3 linked regions of the Homo sapiens genome follow. The protein of the gene in region 1 interacts with the protein of each later gene in a pairwise test. Each region holds a gene or a part of one and is shown in the gene's direction. Other genes may lie near its edges.

Region 1 (7,364 bases):
AAGCGATTTTCCTGCCTCAGCCTCCCGAGTAGCTGGGATCACAGGCATGTTCCACCATGCCCGGCTAATTTGGTATTTTTAGTAGAGATGGGGTTTCTCCATGTTGGTCAGGCTGGTCTCGAACTCCTGACCTTAGGTGATCTACCCACCTAGGCCTCCCAAAGTGCTGGGATTACAGGCGTCAGCCACCACGCCCAGCGCTAATTTTTAAATCTTTTGCAGAGACAGAGTCTCACTACGTTGCCCAGGCTGGTCACGAACTCCTGGCCTCAAATGGTCCTCTGCCTTGGCCTCCCCAAGTGCTGAGTTTACAGGCATGAGACACCACGTTTGGCCTTTCCCCAGATATTTTTGTTCTTCGGATGGTTGAATTCCTAGATGCTGAACCCTTGGATATTGAGGACCAATATTGAGCAGGAGAGGGCTGTGGGGTTAATAGAGGATTTTCTTTTCTTTTTTAAGAGGAAAATTTTATTCTTACTGAGATGGAGTCTGGCTCCCCTAGGCTGGAGTGCAATGGTTGAATCTCACTGCAACCTCCGCCTCCCAGACCCAAGCAATCCTCGCTCTTCAGCCTCCCAAGTAGCTGGGACTACAGATGCGGGCCACCACACCCGGCTAATTTTTTGGTAATTTTTTTGTACAGACGGGTTTTCACCATGTGGCCCAGCTTGGTCTCAAACTCCGCCTACTCCACCTCCCAAAGTGATGACATTACAGGCGTGAGTCACCGTACCTGGCCTGAACATTTTTTTTTTAATTAAAAAAATTTTTTTGAGACACAGTCTCACTCGGTTCCTTAGGCTGCGGTGTAGTGTAGTCTAGGCTCACTGCAACCTCTGCCTCCTGGGTTCAAGTGATTCTCCCACCTCAGCCTCCCAAGTAGGTGGGACCACAGGTGTGCACCACCACATCCAGCTAATTTTTTTTTTTTTTTTTGAGATGGAGTCTTGCTCTGTCGCCCAGGCTGGAGTGCAGTGGCATGGTCTCGGCTCACTGCAACCTCCACCTCCTGGGTTCACGCCGTTCTCCTGCCTCAGCCTCCTGTGTACCTGGGACTACAGGCGCCCGCCACCATGCCCAGCTAATTTTTTGTATTTTTAGTAGAGACGGGGTTTCACCGTGTTAGCCAGGATGGTCTCGATCTCCTGACCTCGTGATCCACCCGCCTTGGCCTCCCAAAGTGCTGAGATTACAGGCGTGAGCCACCAGGCCCAACCCTTATTTATTTATTTATTTTTCTTTTTGAGATGGAGCCTTGCTCTGTCACCCAGGCTGGATTGCAGTGGCGCAATCTTGGCTCACTACAACCTCCACCTCCCGGGTTCAATTGATTGTCCCACCTCAGCCCCCCAAGTAGCTGGGACTACAGGCACCCGCCACCATGCCCGGCTAATTTTTTGTATTTTTAGTAGAGATGGGGTTTCACCGTGTTAGCCAGAATGGTCTCGATCTCCTGACCTTATGATCTGCCCACCTCGGCTTCCCAAAGTGCTGGGATTACAGGTGTGACCCACTGTGCCTGGCCTATTTATTTATTTTTTCTTTTTTTCCTTTTTTTTTTGAGACAGAGTCTCGCTCTGTCGCCAAGGCTGGAGTGCAGTGGCGCGATCTCGGCTCACTGCAAGCTCCGCTTCCCAGTTCATGCCATTCTCCTGCCTCGGCCTCCCGTGTAGCTGGGACTACAGGCGCCCACCACCACGCCCAGCCAATTTTTTTGTATTTTTGTATTTTTTTTTTTTGAGATGGAGTCTCGCTCTGTCCCCAGGCTGGAGTGCAGTGGCACCGTCTTGGCTCACTGCAAGCTCTGCCTCCGGGCTTCACGCCATTCTCCCGCCTCAGCCTCCCAAGTAGCTGGGACTGCAGGGGCCCGCCACCATGCCCGGCTAATTTTTTATATTTTTAGTAGAGATGAGGTTTCACCGTGTTAGCCAGGATGGTCTCGATTTCCTGACCTCGTGATCCGCCCACCTCGACCTCCCAAAGTGCTGGGATTACAGGCCTGAGCCACCGCGCCCGGCCCTATTTATTTTTTTAATTGAGATGGAGTCTCACTCTGTTATCCAGGCTGGAGTGCAGTGGTGCGATCTCGGCTCATTGTAACCTCCGTTCCTGGGTTCAAGCGATTTTCCTGCCTCAGCCTCCTGAGTAGCTGGGACTACAGGTGCATGCCACCATGCCCAGATAATTTTTGTATTTTTTCAGTAGAGACAGGGTTTCACCGTGTTGGCCAGGCTGGTCTCGAATTCCTGGCTTCAAGTGATCCGCCCGCCTTAACCTCCCAAAGTGCTGGGTTTACAGGCATGAGCTATCTTGCCTGGCCACTATTTTTTAGATTTTTTGTAGAGATGAGTCTCCCTATGTTGCCCAGGCTGGTCTCTAACTCCTGGGCTCAAGCAATCCTCCCAACCTGGCCTCCCAAAATGTTGGGATTACAAGCATAAGTCACTATGCCCAGCTTTATTTTTAATTTTTTTTTCTTTTGAGACGGAGTCTCGCTCTGTCGCCCAGGCTGGAATGCAGTGGCTTGATCTCGGCTCACTGCAAGCTCCGCCTCCCGGGTTCACGCCATTCTCTTGCCTCAGCCTCCTGAGTAGCTGGGACTACAGGCGCCCGCCACCACGCCCGGCTAATTTTTTGTATTTTTAGTGAGACGGGGTTTCACCGTGTTAGCCAGGATGGTCTCGATCTCCTGACCTCATGATCCGCCCGCCTCGGCCTCCCAAAGTGCTGGGATTACAGGCGTGAGCCACTGCACCTGGCCTATTTAAATTTTTTTAACATTCCTCATTGAGCACTCAACTTGTCTTTTTTTCTTCTCTTTTTCCCCCTTACGTTGTATCTTGGGCCTTATGTGTCCAAACTCTGAAGAGAGGAGACCAGCGCTGGAGTTGAGAGAGAAAAAAGAGCCATGGTGATGAGGAGAGAGTTTAGTCCTGTACCTCCTCTTGCCTGCTGCTTTCAAGTCTGTTTTGTTGAATTCTCAGGACTCGATTGAGCTTAGTCTCTTGTCAGGCTATGCCAAAGCAGCACAGTAGTCTAGGGACTGACAGTTGGGCCTCACTGGACTTTAGTGGTTTTCTTTTACCAGTTTGAAAAAGGGCCAGGCTCACAGTGAGAGCTGGAAAGCAGGGGACTATTTGCCTGCGAATTCCTCAATAGCATACACGCGATGCCTAGAACATTTCTGTCCAATAAACAGCATGTGCTTGATAAACATACTGAACTTAGCGGTGTCCCCAGTGCATTCTAGGCGAGGTCACCTCCTTGACAAGGTCCCCAGGACTTCATTGCACCTCCTAGCTAGTAGCGTATTCTAGGATGGCAAAGCTGCCTTTACATAATTACCCCCGATACATTCTAGACACGATCATCTTGAAAGAGACCCAAATTTTACCAGGCATGGTGACTCAGGCCTGTAATCCCAGCACTTTGGGAGGCCGGGGCGGGCGAATCATCTGAGGTCAGGAGTTCGAGACCAGCCTGGCCAACATGGTGAAACCCCGTCTCTACTAAAAATACAAAAGTTAGCCAGGCGTGGTGGTGCAAGCCTGTAATCCCAGCTAGTCAGGAGGCTGAGGCAGGAGAATCGTTTGAACCCGGGAGGCGGAGGTTGCAGTGAGCTGAGATCGCGCCACTGCACTCCAGCCTGGGCAACAAGAGCAAAACTCCGTCTCAAAAAAAAAAAAAAAAAAAAAAGACCCAGGCTGGGCGCGGTGGCTCATGCTTGTAATCCCAGCGCTTTAGAAGGCTGAGGTGGGTGGATCACCTGAGGTCGGGAGTTCGAGACCAGCCTGACCAACATGATAAAACCCCGTCTCTACTAAAAATACAAAATTAGCTGGGCGTGGTGGTGCATGCCTGTAATCCCAGCTACTCGGGAGGCTGAGGCAGGAGAATCGCTTGAACCCGGGAGGCGGAGGTTGTTTGAGCCGAGATCACGCCATTGCACTCCAACCTGGACAACAAGAGCGAAACTTCGACTCAGAAAAAAAAAAAAAAAGACCCAAATTTATCATCAGTGGTCACCTCAGAGCACCTGAATTCAGGCCTTTAAGTGCAAGTAGGATGCAGAATTCTGGAAGAGCCAGTAAGTCTGTGGCTCCTTGGGGAAGCGCGATCCAAGGGTTTAGTAACCTAGGCACGGTACTCCAGAGGCGTACCCTGAGGCAGCCGCCAAATTCTCTAAGCCTCAGAATTCTTCAAGGCCAGCTCCCATGTCCACTAGAGACCCAGGGGTCCAGACCATCAGGCACTGAGGAAGACGCCCCCGGCAGGGGCTGCGCAGGCGCGTGCGGCCCGAAAGGGCCCAGGCGCTACACGCTGCGCAGGCGCAGGAGCGGCTCCGGGTAGTCCCCACAGCTGCGCCGGTGACTGAGGGGCCGGGCAGTGGAGAAGTGGTGGCGGCGGGCGGCGGGCGGCAAAGGAGCAGCCATGAGGGCCGGGCCCAGTCACCGACCGTGAGTAGTGGTGGAGGGGGAGTGGACAACGCGTGGGAAGAGGGTAACTTAGCGGAAGGATACATGACTTTGTGGGGTGGGCTCTGACTGTGGGAGACGGAAGGGCGTGGGGGAGGTACAGTTTGAGGTGATGATGGGAGAATTTGGGGCACGGGTGGCCCGGTCGCCGGCCGCAGAGCTGGACAGCTTGGTGGAGGGGGACGGGGTTGCGTGCTGTGGAGTGAAGCAGCCCATTTGTATCATCCCTTCCTCCAGGAGCTTTTGGTCGCCTCTCCTTTCCGCTTCTTTCAGAGAATGATTGCGGGGGGAGGGTGGTGGAGGATGAAAGCTCTGCTGGAGCTTAAGAAGCCACCTCTGAACCAGGCAGGGGAAGGGTCGGTCTCCCGGAGTAATAGGCTGCTCTGGGTAGAGGATGGGAGTCGGGAACCCTCTTTTGAAAGCCGGGAGGGGTCTAGGGAAAAGAGCTAGGGGCTTAGAGTCAGGCAGGTTCGAAAGGAAGTCCACCATTGATAAAGCTGTTAGGTAACCTTGGGCAGGTCCCACTTAACCTTTCTGAACACCAGGAAGATGTCATGCTTCAAACGGGCTATTGCAAGCATCACCTATGTAATTGAGATTGTTTATGCAAATTGTGAATTGTAAGTACTATGTTGATGTTAATGTATCACCAACAATGTTAGTGGAATTTAGACCTTACCGTTGTTAATGGAATGACTGATTTCTCTGTTAAGATAAGAAGCGTATTGTTTGTAAAACCTCAGTAGACACATATGTGCTTTCTTTATGGGCACAGCAGACCATGTGCAGAACTACCAGTTCTGTAATGTGATAAATTAGCCATCAGACTTCTGTAGGAAAAATACCGTACTCCGGCGTTTTTACAAACGGTTTGCAGCTCCTCACCCGAAAGGATGGAGGGCCAATCTATTAAAATATTTTCTGAACATAGCTAACTCATGTTGCCTTATAACACAGTTGGCACTAATGTGCTTTAACGAGTTGAGAAAAGGCCGGGTGCAGTGGCTCATGTCTGTAATCCCAGCACTTTGGGAGGCCGAGGCGGGCGGATCACGAGGTCAGAAGTTGGAGACCAGCCTAGCCAACGTAGTGAAATCCCGTCTCTACTAAAAATACAAAAAATCAGCCGGGTGTGGTGGCGGGCGCCTGTAATCCCAGCTGCTTGGGAAGCTGAGGCAGGGGAATCACTCGAACCCGGGAGGCAGAGGTTGCGGTGAGCCGAGATAGTGCTATTGCACTCCAGTTCGGGTGACAGTGCGAGACTCCGTCTGGAAAAAAGAGTTAAGAAAACTAGTTTGAGACAAGCTGGGAGGGCTGCCCAGTGAGGGATGTGAAAATATAATTTGTTTATTATATTTTATTTTATTTTTGAGACGGAGTCTCGCTCTGTCGCCAGGCAGGAGTGCAGTGGCATCATCTCGGCTCACAGCAACCTCCGCCTCCCGGGTTCAAGCGATTCTCCTGTCTCAGCCTCCTGAGTAGCTGGGATTACAAATGCCCACCACCACGCCTGGCTAATTTTTGTAGTTTTAGTAGAGATGGGGTTTCACCATGTTGGCCAGGCTGGTCTTGAACTCCTCACGTCAGGTGATCCACCCACCTCGGCCTCTCAAAGTGCCGGGATTACAGGCGTGAGCCACCGTGCCTGGCTATTTTGTTATCTTTATTTTTATTTTATTTTATTATAATTTTTTTTGAGGTGGGTGAAGGAGTCTTGCTCTGTCACCCAGGCTGGAGTGCAGTGGTGCGAACTTGGTTCACTGCAACCTCCGCCTCCTGGGTTCAAGCAATTCTCCTGCCTCAGCCTCCCTAGTACCTGGGATTATAGGCACGTGCCACCATACCCGGCTAATTTTTGTATTTTTTTTAGTACACTCGGGGTTTCTCCATTGCTGGACAGGCTGGTCTCAAACTTCTGACCTCAGGTGATCCGCCCGCCCCAGCCTCCCAAAGTGCTGGGATTACAGGCGTGAACCACCGTGCTTGGCCCATTTTATTATTTTTAAATTATAAAAAGTTCTCCTTTGCAAAGGAGTCTCTGGCTGCTCCGGGGACCTGTCGCTGTTTTGGAGGTCAGATATGCATAAGGCAGCCCTCTAGCTCTGCTTTTTGTTACCCTGCTTGTCAGTGGGATCTCTCAGGTGGAATATCTCAGAAGAGGAGCCCAAGAGGTGTCTTGGTTTTCCTGAGAGGCTGAAGAAACACTCCTGAGACGTGTTTTTTAATGTAGACAAAGCAGAGGACAAACTATGTGTTTATGGAAAGAGAAAATGGGTTCTTTTTATTTTATTTTGTTTTGACACAGAGTCTTGTTCTGTCGCCCAGGCTGGAGTGCAGTAGCGCAATCTCGGCTCATTGCAACCTCCACCTCCCGGGTTCAAGCAGTTCTCCTGCCTCAGCCTCCAAGTAGTTGCGATTACAGGCACCCACCACCATGCCCGGCTAGTTTTTGTATTTTTAGTAGAGATGGGGTTTCGCCATTTTGGTCAGGCTGGTTTCGAACCAGGTGATCCGCCTGCCTCGGCCTCCCAAAGTGCTGGGATCACAGGCGTAAGCCACCAAGCGCAGTGAGAAAATGGTTTCTAAAGTAGAGATGCAGACTCCTTTTAAAAGGACATAGACACTTCAGCTTTGCTGACTCTGAGGATTGAGACCTTAAACTGTCAAGGCGTTTTGGCAATTGATGAGTGATTGGTCTTTTACCTGAGTAAAGGTAGGGAGGGGCTATACTAGATTCTTGAAGATTCACAAATAAGGGGAGTGAATTTACAGGAATGGGAAAAATGAACCTGGTTGTTTTTAACTTCTCTGTCTGGTAAAATGTGTTTCACTTTTCTTTCCTGGAAATGCACAGTGATGTATAATTTTAACCTTTTTACTTTAGTT
Region 2 (7,025 bases), on another chromosome or scaffold:
CTGATGGTGGCTACCCTTCTGTGTTTTCACAACTTAGATTAGCTTTGCCTGTCCTGAAGGTTCAGATCAATAGAATCCTACGGTACATATTTTTGTGTGTGTCTTGCTGCTTTTATTCAGCATAATGTTTTGAAATTTATCCGTGTTGCATAAATCATTGAGGTATGTTGCTGAGTTGCATTCCTTTGTCAGAATACACCAGATCGTATACATTCAACTTGTTTTAAGTGTTTTTTTTGTGTGTGTGTGTTTTTTTTTTGAGACGGAGTCTCGCTCTGTTGTTCAGGCTGTAGTGCAGTGGTGCAATCTCTGCTCACTGCAACCTCCGCCTTCCAGGTTCAAGCAATTCTCCTGCCTCAGCCTCCCGAGTAGCTGGGACTACAGGCACGTGCCACCACACCTGACTAATCTTTTGTATTTTTAGTAGAGATGGGGTTTCATCGTGTTGGCCAGGATGGTCTCAATCTCCTGACCTGGTGATCCGCCTGCCTCAGCCTCCCAAAGTGCTGGGATTACAGGCATGAGCCACTGTGCCCGGGCTGTTTAAGTCCTAAAAGAATGCTTGTGGCTGGGTGTGATGGCTCACTCCTGTAATCCTAGCACTTTGGGAGGCCGAGGTGGGCAAATCACTTGATGTCAGGAGTTCGAGACCAGCCTGGCCAACATGGCGAAACCCCGGCTCTATTAAAAATACAAAAAACTAGCTGGGCGTGGTGGTGCACGCCTATAATCCCAGCTACTCGGGAAGTTGAGGGAAGATGAGGCAGGAGAATCGCTTGAACCTAGGAGGTGGAGGTTGCAGTGAGCCGAGATTGCACCACTGCACTCCAGCCTGGGCGACAGTGAGACTCCATCTAAAAAAAAAAAGAATGCTTACAACTGAGAGTGATGAAACTAGGCCAAGGACCGCCCCCCACCTCCCCAGGAGCCTCTCTGGAGGCTCACACCTGCTGGTCCTGTCCTTGAATAGACAGAAAAAAGGTTCCCCCTGTTCTCTGAATTTCTTTTCGGTGTGATAGATCTCATTGCCTGTGCATTTAACACTCCTAAATTTTATAAAACGATTATTTCTTTGGCATTTATCCAAGAGAAATGAAAAACCAATGTTCATGCAAAAACATGTTCTAGAATGTCCATAGCAGCTTTATGTGTAATAACTCCAAACTGGAAACAAGGAAAAAGTTCCCTTCAGCTGGGGTGTGGTGACACTCTGCTCCGTCTGTGCCTCCAGATCCTACTCTGTTGGGAACTGTTGACACACAAGAGTTTGCAAGGATCTCAAGAGAATTATGCTGAAGGAGAAAAGCCAACCTCAGAAGGGTGCTTGCTGTGGGATCCCATTTATGCCACATTGTTGGGCTGACCCAGAGCTGAAGGGTGGCATGGCCAGAAAAGGACCTACACAGGGAGGCCAGGGTGTCTGGTCCTGGCAGGAGAGCAGCCGTGGAACAGGGTAGGAACACAGACGTGGAGCTCAGTGGAGGAGGGAAGGAACGCTTAGCTGTGGGGCTTAGAGACTTGGCAAAACAAGAGGAAGCTTTACCAGCAAGTGTGCAGAAATAGTGCGGGAGAAAGTTGGTGGAGCGTTCCACCTTCTTAGGATGCAGTTTAATAATGTTTATCAAGCCTCTTAAAAATGTACCTGCACATCACCCTAGTAAGTAAAGAGCCGAGGCTAAGGAAGCCAAATGCTAGAAATACCAAAACACCTAAAGTTAGAAACTGGTATCATTTGTGATTGGGAAAATTGTCAGTAGTGTGAAACTTCCCTCCCTTGTGCAGAGAGGAAAGTGCTGGGAGAAACGACTGGAAAGGAGGAACCCAGGTGGTGACTGTGTTTTTCTGAGTGGATGGGATCCTGGGAGAAAATTCGTTTTATGGTTTTTGATGCTCTTCCAGATTGTCTATGGTGAGCTGTGGAAATAAGCAACCAGGTGAGAACAGGCAGAGGCTGTTTATCCAGAGCTTCCCCTAGCAAGGGTGCGGCCCTCCTCTCTCGTGATTGGCAGAAACTCATAGGCAGGTGAGGGAACAGGAGAGCTTTACAGTGGAATCCAGGGAAGCTCAGGGATGGCTGATGGAGGCTGCTGACTTGGGGGACTGGGGTGGCCAGTTAGAAGTGGGGCTCCTGGCCTGGCACGGTGGCTGACGCCTGTAGTCCCAGCACTTTGGGAGGCCAAGGTGAGTGGATCACCCGAGGTCAGGAGTTTTGAGACCAGCCTGACCAACATGGTAAGTCTCTACTGAAAATATAAAAATTAGCCAGGCCTGGTGGTACACCCTTGTAATCCCAGCTACTCGGGAGGCTGAGGCAGGAGAATCCCTTGAACCTGGGAGGCGGAGGTTGCGGTGAGCTGAGATTGCGCCACTGCACTCCAGCCTGGGCGACACAACAACAACAACAAAGAAGTGGGGCTCCTGTGAGATGGCCTAGAACATGTTTGGCTTTCTCTGGTTGGTCCTAAATTGGAAGCAGGGACAAAAACTGGAGAGGTTGTCGGTTACTAATCATGTCCTGGCCATTTTGGGCTGCTTGCTATGGAAATGATTGTTTAGCTTCCTGGATTGTTCCTAGAGAAAGCAGCCAGGCTTCCTGCAGGTCTGACTAGGGCAACCTGGCTTCCTGGCCCGTTACTGAAGGTAAAGGGCTGGTTTCCGACTGATGGCGGCAGATAATGGCTGAGAGTTCTGTTTCTGTATGTGGTTCCGCCATTGTTTGTTGGTATATTCCCTCGCTCAGAGCAGATGTTATTAGGGTGATTTCTGACGGTCACGTATTGCTAGTGCTGCCCTTAGGACCGCTGACAGCACCAGGCCAAGCACTGAATTCATCCTCTTAAGATCCCCAGTGGGAGGCTTCTAGTATCCATATCTGGCTTTCAGAAAAGGGCGGGAGGGTCTGTCGTTGGGTTTGGACTCAGGACCTGGCATTTCTAAGGACTCAGAGGAAAGGAAAGTGGGACCCAGAGGGTCCTAGGAGCTTGGGACAGCTTCTTGAACTGGTTCCCAGTGTGGTTGTGGGTCTTCTTGGCCTGTCCCATTGGTATTCTTGTTCCTTCTGTGAGTTGCCCTGATTGCCCTGCTCAGTCGTGCTGACCTCCTGTAGGCCCCACATTATGGGGGTTGTGCTGCTGGGTTTCCAGAGTCAGGGGAGGCAGCCAGGGGTTCTTCTGTCTATAAACTTGGGCTTAATGCATGCTGTTCAAGAGGATTTGGTTTGGGTCCTAAATTAATCCATTGCTATGCAGGCTTGGGATTGAGATAGGTTGAAAGAGAAACTAAAAACCTAAAAGGTATATTGACTTCCCACAGAGGAACCCGTGGGACTTAATCTTTTCCCCAACGCAGGGTGTCCTTTGTAGTTTGACATAGCCTTATGTTAATTCTCGATATACTTAGCAATTTTAAGCCAGTGATTTAAACAATGGATTGGGATGGAAAAGCTCTGAAAAGTTAAATTTGTGGCTGACACAAAGAACTCGAATATTTACCAAAAGTAATAGAAATGTGTAAATGTGTTTTGGTGGTAAACTGTCCTTCATTTAGAATTAGTTGAGAAGCTGGTGTATGCAGGTGTGAGAGGCGGTGCCCAGCCTGAGGGCTGTGCCTGTGGTGACACTGGCATGCTGCTCTGGGGAAATGGGTGCTGTAGGGGAAATAAGCTAGGGTTAGGGAAGTTTTCCTTTAATTTTAATTTTGAAATAATTGTAGAGCCAGGGGAGGTTGCAGAGCAGTGTTCAGGAGGTCCTATGTGCCCTTCCTCTGCTCCCCAGGGCCGGCATCCTTGTAGGATGCACAGCCAGGCCCCAGGTCCGTGTGATGACACGGCTGCCGCAGGCGCATGTGTGCGTGTCCGGCGCTGTGCAGTCAGGGTAGGGCCACCCCCACAGCCCAGGAGCAGAAGGGCCCTCACCCCCAAGATCTCCCTGCGCAGGTTCCTTTCTAGCCCTGCCACCCCTCAGCTCTGGGTCAGCATGACAATGTGGCATAAATGGGATCCCATAGCAAGCACCCTTCTGAGGTTGGCTTTTCTCCCTCAGCCTAATGCCCCTGTGGAAGGATCCGTCCTGTGTATCAACAGTTCATTTCTTTCTATTGCAGAGTAGGATTTGGTGGCATGAATGGAGCAGAGTGTGTGTCACCGTGCCCAGGTGAAGGGTACATTTTCCTTGTTTCAGATTTGGAGCTACTACAAATAAAGCTGCTGTGCACATTCTGGAACATGTTTTTTGCATGAACATTGGCTTTTTCTCTGGGATAAATGCCCAAGAGGTCACTTAGTTTTTTAAAATTTACATGTGTTAAAGGCACGGGGATGAGATCTGTGACACTGAAGGGAAATTCAGAGAACAGGGGGACCCTTTCTTCTGTTAATTCAAGGGTAGGACCAGCAGGTGGGAGCCTCCAGAGGGGCTCCTGGGAAGGGGTATGTTTGGCAGCCAGTTCTCCCGCACTGCAAAACTTCCCATCCTTGGTCTCCAGACCCCGAGCAGAGACAGCATGTGCCTCCCATACGCCAGCTTTCCAAGAGCACCTGGGTATACCCTGGTCACAGGGAGCCATCAGATTGACTAAGAGAAAAAGAAGTTCCAAAGTTTGCATATTCAAAAGATTGTAACCCTATTTATGCATAACTTGAATTATTTGAAATAATATTTCACTACATTACAAGCATGAGAAGAGAGAAACTTAATCATGCGTGAGATGCTTGTCCTGTCAGACTCTGCCGGCCAGTATGGCCCTGAGCCAGCTGTCATCCTCCCAGCTCCCCGCAGGCGGCACTGGCTCAGAATGGCATCTGTCAAAAGCCAGAGCCCACCCTCCTGTCTGCTCTGCCTTTAGTGCCCCAGAGATGTCCCAATTTAGAATCAGTTAAAAAAAAAAAAAAACAGTTTGCACAGACTTGTACTTCTGAGAGTAGACATGGCCAATGTCCATCTAGTGCATCTGTGCTGTGCGTCTTAGTGGAACCTGCCCAGCAAGGCTGAGCCTTAGGTGCCATCCCGGAGTTGCCCAGGTCTGGGGTAAGATCCAGGAATCTGCATCTTCAACCAACAGCGCCAGTGCTGAGGCATACGCCGAGAAACACTGCCTTGGCCAGCTCTGGGCTGCCACAACACACTGGTGAGGAACCCACCCCCCCTGCCCCGGACACACACATACCCTGCCATGTTTTGGTTCCTTTGAAGAGAAAGGAGTTGAGATGAGAGGGGAGGTGGCCCCTGAGGCCATGGTTGTACGGGCTGGTCAGAGCTCTCGAGTGGAGGGCATTGACCTGAGAGATGTCAAGTAGAAAGCAGCCAGGCAGAGCCTGTGCACCTTGGGAGAAATGAACTGGTGGGGCGGGTGGGGGGAGCCAAGGAATGGGTGTGATCCCTAAGGCAGGCAGCATGGGCGGGTGTGGGAGCAAGGGACTGTCCAGGGCCACATAGGCTCGGCCAGGAGACCCTGTGTCCCTTGGAGAATTGTGCACGAAACACAGACCACTCGCTGCATGGGATGAGCATACAGCCCTGCAGTCCTTCCCCTGCGCGTTCCTGGTGGCACAGCTTTCCAGCCCGGCTGTCTGCGACATATAGAGGCTTTTAGTGAAAGCATTGAGGGGGAAGGCACTAACTCTTCTGAACGCAGAAGTGACTTTGTCCGAGGCAGGATCCTGAGGGAAGTCAGAATGGTACGTGTGTGTGCCCGGCCCTGTCCGGCCCCCGCCCTGCGCCCTCTGCAGGCTGGCACGGTTCACATTAATCTCATGTTACCCCAGGGTCTCTTCTTTTGTACACACCACAGTTAGATTTTTGAAACAGATTTTCAGCCAAGCTCTCGAACACTTACATTTCTCTTATATATTTCTCCTATTTTTAGTTCATTTATCTTTTTTGCTATAAAACACTGTCGTGGTACAGTTGAGAGGTTTGTCGTTTCTAACAACGTGACTGTGCCTGGCTTAGGCAGGATGGCAGCTGATCTGGGGGTGGGGGTCTCCCACTGGGCTCCACGTCTCAGCTCTGTTAGGGAGTTACAGCTCTGTCAAGTCCCTGCCAGTTACGGAGTCGCTGCTCCTTGCGTACAGTGAGGGCAGTCAGACGAAATCCAAGGGGCGCTGTCCGCAGAGAGTCTGCCGTGTGCTAAGTGGTGTCTTCCTTGGTTTCTGCAGGACACAATGTTTGCACGAGGACTGAAGAGGAAATGTGTTGGCCACGAGGAAGACGTGGAGGGAGCCCTGGCCGGCTTGAAGACAGTGTCCTCATACAGCCTGCAGCGGCAGTCGCTCCTGGACATGTCTCTGGTGAAGTTGCAGCTTTGCCACATGCTTGTGGAGCCCAACCTGTGCCGCTCAGTCCTCATTGCCAACACGGTCCGGCAGATCCAAGAGGAGATGACGCAGGATGGGACGTGGCGCACAGTGGCACCCCAGGCTGCAGAGCGGGCGCCGCTCGACCGCTTGGTCTCCACGGAGATCCTGTGCCGTGCAGCGTGGGGGCAAGAGGGGGCACATCCTGCTCCTGGCTTGGGGGACGGCCACACACAGGGTCCAGTTTCTGACCTTTGCCCAGTCACCTCAGCACAGGCACCAAGGCACCTGCAGAGCAGCGCCTGGGAGATGGATGGCCCTCGAGAAAACAGAGGAAGCTTTCACAAGTCACTTGATCAGATATTTGAAACGCTGGAGACTAAAAACCCCAGCTGCATGGAAGAGCTGTTCTCAGACGTGGACAGCCCCTACTACGACCTGGACACAGTACTGACAGGCATGATGGGGGGTGCCAGGCCGGGCCCCTGCGAAGGGCTCGAGGGCTTGGCTCCGGCCACCCCAGGCCCTAGCTCCAGCTGCAAGTCCGACCTGGGCGAGCTGGACCACGTGGTGGAGATCCTGGTGGAGACCTGAGCAGGAGCCCTGAGTGCTCACAGCCGCCTCTGACGCATTGACACGTGAGCACTGGCTCCCACGGAGGGTGCGCCTGCCGCCAGCGGCCCAGCCTTGCTGCCCTGTCTGCTGATTCTGAGAAATCCCAGAACAGCCCATT
Region 3 (7,025 bases), on another chromosome or scaffold:
TGGCCTCCCAAAGTGCTGGGATTACAGGCATGAGCCACCATGCCTGGCCAGGCAGCTGAGATTTTTATTGAGATTGCATCATAGATCAGTTTGGAGAGTAGCATGTGTACTTTTATAGTTAATGTAAGAGGGAGACAAAACTCATAGTCATGAATTATAAGTTAATGTTAATTTTTCTGATTTCACTGATCTTACTGATAAAGATTGCTTTTTCTCATAACATTTTCCCCCTTAGGTAAAAGTATTTATTACATTCATATGTAGGTTCAAAAAAGATTAACTTATAATTTAGTAGTAACTTTTTAAAAGCAACAGTAATAATGTGCAAATGTTTTTAGATACAACATACAAGTTGTTGGATTTAAAATAACCCAAAGGTGTCTAGACATACACCTTTTTGAGGTGAGCACATGTGTATTTTCTGGCGAAACATCACATGGGGATTATACATTTATCATCATCTTTTTTTTGTTTGTTTCTTGAGATAGATAGTCTTGCTCTACCACCCAGTTCATTGTAGTGGCATAATCATAGATCACTGTAACCTTGAACTCCTGGACTTAAGTGATCCTCCTGTCTCAGTGTCCTAGGTACAGGTGCGTGCAACCACACCTGGTTTAATTTTTAAATATTTTGCAGAGATGGGGTCTCATTATGTTGCCTAGGCTGGTCTTGAACTCCTGGGCTCAGGTGATCCTTCTACCTCAGCATCCCAAAGTGTTGGGATTACAGGCGTGAGCCATTGCACTTGGTCTAGCTTCTATCCAAGATAGACTCCTATAGTGGTATATAGATATGACTGGTTTCCTTTTTAAAAAATTAAGCAGTATCATGTCTTTACCTTCCGGCTACCTCCTTGGGTTAGCCTTGCCACATGGTCATTCTTCTGTTTGGTTGGTTTTATAAATCTTAAAAATTCTCATTCAAAAGTAGCTATAATAAGCCAAGAATATGTAATTTCATGCATTTATTCTGAGTGTGGAATTTATATATATATATATATATATATATATATATATATATATATATATATTTTTTTTTTTTTTTTTTTTTTTTTTTTTAAGAAGCTGTTAATGTTGCTAAGGTGTCTGACCAATCTTCCAAGTTGATTAGCCTGCCATGTGCCAGGTGCAGTTTATGTGCTATGCAAGTATTAGGGCAGCATTTGAACTAAAGCCTTCCTCATTTTTCAGAACTTCATTCTTTAACTAATAGTGTGGACTCTTGAGAGGAGCATGGAGGGCGATTCATGGAGTAGGGTGTGAACAGCACGGAAGTTCACAATCTCAGGCTGTATCTCTGGAAGCAGAAGATATTGTCTCACCCAACTGTTAATAAAGTTCGTGAGGTTTTCTCAGTATTATTCAAACTCGGTTGAGTTGCTTCTGCTTTGTTCTTAAGTCCTTCTTTTTCCTTTTCTTTTCTTTCTTTTTTTGAGACCAGGTCTCCCTCTGTCACCCAGGCTGGAGTACAGTGGTATGATATTGGCTTACTGCAACCTCCACCTCCTGGGCTCAAGCGATCCTCCCACTGCAGCCTCCTGAGTAGCTGGGACTACAGGCACATGCCACCATTCCCAGCTAATTTTTGTATTTTTTGTAGAGAGGGGGTTGCCCCCGCTTATCTTAAACTCTTTGAGTTTAAGCAGTCCACCTGCCTTGGCCTTCCAAAGTGCTAGGATTACAGGCATGAGCCACTGTGCTCGGCCCCCTTTTTTTTTTTTTTTCTGTTTCTCAGGCTGGAGTGCAATGGCATGATCACAGCTCACTGCAGCCTCAATCTCCTCTGGCTCAGGTGATCCTCCCACCTTAACTGCTTGAGTGGCTGGGACCTTAGGCATACGCCACTACACCTGGCTAATTTTTGTATTTTTTGTAGAGATGGGGTCTCACTTTGTTGCCCAGGCTGGTCTGGAACTCCTGACCTCAAGCGATCCACCTGCCTTGGTCTCCCAAAGTGCTAGAATTACAAGAATGAGCTACCACGCCTGGCCAAGTCCTTCATTTTTATGACATACTTTAATATGTAACAGAAATCTGTTCTGAAGTCCTAGAAGCATTTTCTTCCTTTTTGGATTCCGTCTTATGACTCTAAATGGTGCAAGGAACTCCTGTATTTTCTTTGCTGTGCTCCAAGTGTCAACCTAAAATAACAACAGAGAGAAGGACTCTTCAAAGAAATGAATCTGTTTGGAAATAAACAGAGAATTACAATTTCAGATGCGCATACCATAGATAATCATCCCCTACATATCTGGAGAAGTTGTAGTAAGGGGAAACTTTTAAAGGGAAAGAGGAGAAGTCCATATAAGCTGTTTTGAGACAAACATCATTGGTCACAGGGGCCTGTTGTAGGAGCTGATGTTACTGGAAACTCATTGCTAAGCGAGTGTTCTTATGAAGATGGCTTATGTGAAACTGCAGTCTTGAGGAATTTTTTTTTTTTCTTTTTTTGGACAGAGTTTCACTCTGTCGCCCAGGCTGGAGTGCCATGGCACGATCTTGGCTCACTGCAAGCTCCGCCTCCCGAGTTCACGCCATTCTCCTGCCTCAGCCTCCTGAGTAGCTGGGACTACAGTCGCCTGCCACCACGCCCAGCTAATTTTTTTGTATTTTTAGTAGAGACAGGGTTTCACCGTGTTAGCCAGGATGGTCTCGATCTCCTGACCTCGTGATCCGCCCACCTTGGCCTCCCAAAGTGCTCAGATTACAGGTGTGAGCCACCGTGCCTGGTTGAGGAATTTTTTGTGATAAGTCCTGTTACAGACATATGTAGGACAAGCAAGATGAGTAGGGCCTACAGGGATTTTTTGTGAGTTTTTAGAAAGCCCTGTGATATAGGCTGGGTGCAGTGGCTCATACCTGTAGTCCAAGCTACTTGGGAGGCTGAGGCAGGAGGATAACTTGAGCCTGGGAGATCTAGGCTGCAGTGAGCTATGATGGTGCCACTGTACTCTAGCCTGGGTGACAGAGTGAGACCCTGTCTCAAAAAAAAAAAAAAAAAAAGTCCTTGTGATAATACTTATCGCAGACATGTGTGCATGAGATCCCCTCCTTCGTGACCTCCCCCTCCATTTTGGGTCTGATGTAAGTGACTCCATCTTGGCATTGGCAACTTTCACACAAGCTGCTTTTCAGACAAAGACTTAAAAACTTTGCCACGTTTCTGAAATAGGATCTTTAGCTCATCCTTAACAAACATCTTTAGCAACTGCAAGGCTGTTATATAATCTGATTCTGTGTTCTTTTGTAAACATGCATGTGACAGCTTTGTGATCTGTCAGGACAGTGGTTATTTGGGAAAAGAAGCAATGAACTCATGAAGGCATCTCAAAACCAGGAAGTAATTCCAGGAATCAAGGAAATTTTCAAGCATCAAAAGTAATGGCTGGCCAGATGTGGTGGCTCACACCTGTAATCCCAGCACTTTGGGAAGCTGAGGCGAGTGGATTGCTTGAGCCCAGGAGTTCGAGATCAGCCTGGGCAACATGGCCAAACCCTGTCTCTACAAAAAATACAAAAATTAGCCAGGCATGGTGGTGCATGCCTGTGGTCCCAGTTACTTAGGATGCTAAGGTGGGAGGATTGCTTGAGCCCGGAGTTTGAGGCTGCAGTGAGCCGTGATTGTGCCACTGCATTCTACCCTGGGTGTCTTGGGGAGAAAAAAAGTAATGGCCAGGCATGGTATAATCCCAGCACTTTGGGAGGCTGAGGTGCCAGGATCACTTCAGCCTAAAAGTTTGAGACTAGCCTGGCAACATAGCGTGACCTCATTTCTATTTAAAGAAAAACAACAACAACGAAAAAAAAAACAAAAACAACGCCTGTGAGAAGGGAAAAAGAAAAAAAATAAACAACAAAAGCCACATAAAAGCAATGAGAATCACACACTAAAGTAACATGAACCCATCTATTGGTTTCAATGGGTTATCAGTACATGGCCGTCGTGTATTTATTCTTGGAGTATTTCCTTGGAGTATTTTGAAGCAATTTCAGATATCATTTTATCACTTATAAATACCTAAGTATGTTTCTTTAAAATATAAGGAAGTTTTAAAAACATAACCACAATGTTTTTAAACATTTTTAATTAAAAATTAAAACTTAAAAGGAAAAAAACAACCTTAAAAATAATTATTTCATATCATTAAATATCTGGTCAGTTCTAACAGTAAAATATTTATTTAGTTAGTTAGCTAGTTGAAGACAGGGTCTTACTGTCACCCAGGCTAGAGAACAGTGGCTTGATTATAGCTCACTGTAACATTGAACTCCTAGGCTCAAACGATCCTCCTGCCTCAGCCTCCTGTGTAGCTAAGGACTATAGCTGTGCCATACCACGCCCAGCTAATTAATTTTTTTTTTTTTTTTTTTTTTTTTTTTTGTAGAGATGAGGTCTTGCTGTTTGCACAGGCTGTTCTCAGACTCCTGGGCTCAAGCAATCCTCCCACCTTGGCTTCCCAAAACGCTGGGATTTTTACAGGCATGAGTCTGTGCGCCTAGCCATAACAATAAAATTTGAAGACTGAATACAATTTTTTCAATGAATAGTCTTTAATCTACTTAAAGATTCCATTGTTATAGGACATTTAGGTAGTTTACAATTTTGTGTGATTGTAAATAATGCTGCGATGAAGAACTTCATGTCTATAACTTTTTCTCTAGTTGAATCATTTCCTTAGGATTTCTAGAAGTTGAATAACAGTACAAAAAGTCACATAATGTTTTATTAAGTCTCCAATTGTGTGTGTGATGTATTACGGAGTTCTTTGTTTATGCCCGAAGACCTTAACAGCCTCTTAGTAGTTTTAACATAGTGGTGGTTCATGGTCTTCTGCTCAGGGAATGCATTGCTGACTGTTTATTATACCTCATCCTGCATGGAATTCTTTGGTCATGGGTATCCTCATACCTAAAGTGGGAAAGATTATATAGTCTTCGAGATAGAGATGAGTATAGGAAAACTGGATTCTGTGTTTTCACTGTTTTTAAAGGGTAAAGTAGAAATTAATAGAACACGTTGAGGTGATCATTTAAATTTAGCATTAAGCTTGAATCTTTTTTTAAAAATTACTTTTTTTTTTTTTTTTAAATAGATGGGGTTTGACTATATTCCTGAGGCTGGTCTGTAACTCCTGAGCTCAAGTGATCCTCCCTCCTAGGCTGGATGCAGTAGCTCATGCCTGTAATCCCAGCACTTTGGGAGGCTGAGGCGGGTGGATATGAGGTCAGGAGTTCGAGACCAGCCTGGCCAAGATGGTGAAATCCCATCTCTACTAAAAGTACAAAAATTATAGCATGCCTGTAATCCCAGCTACTTGGGAGGCTGAGGCAGGAGAATCGCTTGAATCTGGGGGGTGGAGGTTGCAGTGAGCCAAGATCTTGCTACTGCACTCCAGCCTGGGTGACAGAGCAAGACTCCATCTTAAAAAAAAAAAAAAAAGTGATCCTCCCTTCTCAGCCTCCCAAAGTGCTGGGATTACAGGCATGAGCCTGTGCGCCTGCCTAGCTTGAATCTTGTTTGGATTATTAAACTGAGGATTCTGGGTGTGGATAAGAGTCTGAATAGGTTATTTAAAACTACAGTGAGCAATATATGAGGAGTTTGTTGTTGGTATCATTTGGGATGCAGAGTGATGGTGTAATACAAAGAACTGGACTTCAGAGTCAGATCTGGGTTCATGTCATGACCCAGCCATGATAATACTAACAACAGTCATAATACAAATAATTACCATTTATTGAGCATACTATATGCCAGACACTATGCTAAACCTTTTATATATGTCATCTTATTTAATTTTGACAGTAATCCTCAAAGATACGTTTATGATCTTCATTTTCCTGATGGAGAAACTGAAGTTAGGGAAGGTTAAATACAAAGCCTATGGCAGAGCTAGGTCTGTCTCTATAGTCTTTTTAAATAATTTTTTTGTTTTCTTATACTTTCTGAGACAGAGTCTCACTCTGTTGCCCAGGCTGGAGTGCAGTGGTACAACCATGACTCACTGCAGCCTTGACCTCCTGGGCTCAAGCAATCCTCTCACCTCAGCCTCCTGAGTAGCTTGGACTACAGATGTGTGCCATGAGGCCTAGATAATTTTTTTTTTTTTTTTTTTTTTGAGATGAAGTCTTACTCTTGTCCCCCAGGCTGGAGTGCGATGGCACGATCTTGGCTCACTGCAACCTCCGCCTCCTGGGTTCAAGCGATTCTCCTGCGTCAGCCCCCCGAGTAGCTGGGATTACAGGCGCCTGCCACCATGCCCGGTTAATTTTTGTATTTTTAGTAGAGATGGGGTTTCACCATTTTGGCCAGGCTGGTCTAGAACTCCTGACCTCAGGTGACCCACCCGCCTCGGCCTCCCAAAGTGCTAGGATTACAGGCTTGAGCCACTGTGCCTGGCAATGCCTGGCTAATTATTTTATTTTATTTTTGTAGAAACAGGGTCTCACTATGTTGTCCAGGCTGGTCTCAAACTCCTGACCTCAAATGATTCTCCCACCTTGGGCTCCCAAAGTGCTGGGATTACAGGCATGAGCCACTGTGCCTGGCCTGCATTAGTGATTAACATCTTCTCAAAGTTTTCAAGTTTAGGCATTAAGTCAGGGCATTTCAGCTCTTCTACTAATTCATCTTTTTTTCACTCAACTTGGTTTTTTTCAGAGTTTGAATTCTTATACAAATGGAGCGTATGGTCCAACATACCCCCCAGGCCCTGGGGCAAATACTGCCTCATACTCAGGGGCTTATTATGCACCTGGTTATACTCAGACCAGTTACTCCACAGAAGTTCCAAGTACTTACCGTTCATCTGGCAACAGCCCAACTCCAGTCTCTCGTTGGATCTATCCCCAGCAGGACTGTCAGACTGAAGCACCCCCTCTTAGGGGGCAGGTTCCAGGATATCCGCCTTCACAGGTGAGTTGTTTTCTATTGGGAAAAAAATGAATTCAAAGTCTCTGCCTCTTGTAAACAGTGGAAGAGCATCTGTTCATACTAGTGCTGATTTAATAAGACACTTCTAG

Evidence for each region.
Region 2: the proteins of FAM222B (region 1) and CDCA4 interact in binary tests that used the Homo sapiens proteins (3 or more experiments, as listed by UniProt).
Region 3: the proteins of FAM222B (region 1) and BAG4 interact in binary tests that used the Homo sapiens proteins (3 or more experiments, as listed by UniProt).

The regions. Positions count from the first base shown.
Region 1 is NC_000017.11:28,839,778-28,847,141, reverse strand, and holds the start of FAM222B (protein FAM222B), read left to right. Parts: upstream 1-4,351; 5' UTR 4,352-4,460; intron 4,461-7,364.
Region 2 is NC_000014.9:105,011,065-105,018,089, reverse strand, and holds part of CDCA4 (cell division cycle-associated protein 4), read left to right. Parts: intron 1-6,154; 5' UTR 6,155-6,160; coding exon 6,161-6,886; 3' UTR 6,887-7,025. UniProt on the Homo sapiens protein: May participate in the regulation of cell proliferation through the E2F/RB pathway. May be involved in molecular regulation of hematopoietic stem cells and progenitor cell lineage commitment and differentiation.
Region 3 is NC_000008.11:38,200,849-38,207,873, forward strand, and holds part of BAG4 (BAG family molecular chaperone regulator 4), read left to right. Parts: intron 1-6,663; coding exon 6,664-6,918; intron 6,919-7,025. UniProt on the Homo sapiens protein: Inhibits the chaperone activity of HSP70/HSC70 by promoting substrate release. Prevents constitutive TNFRSF1A signaling. Negative regulator of PRKN translocation to damaged mitochondria.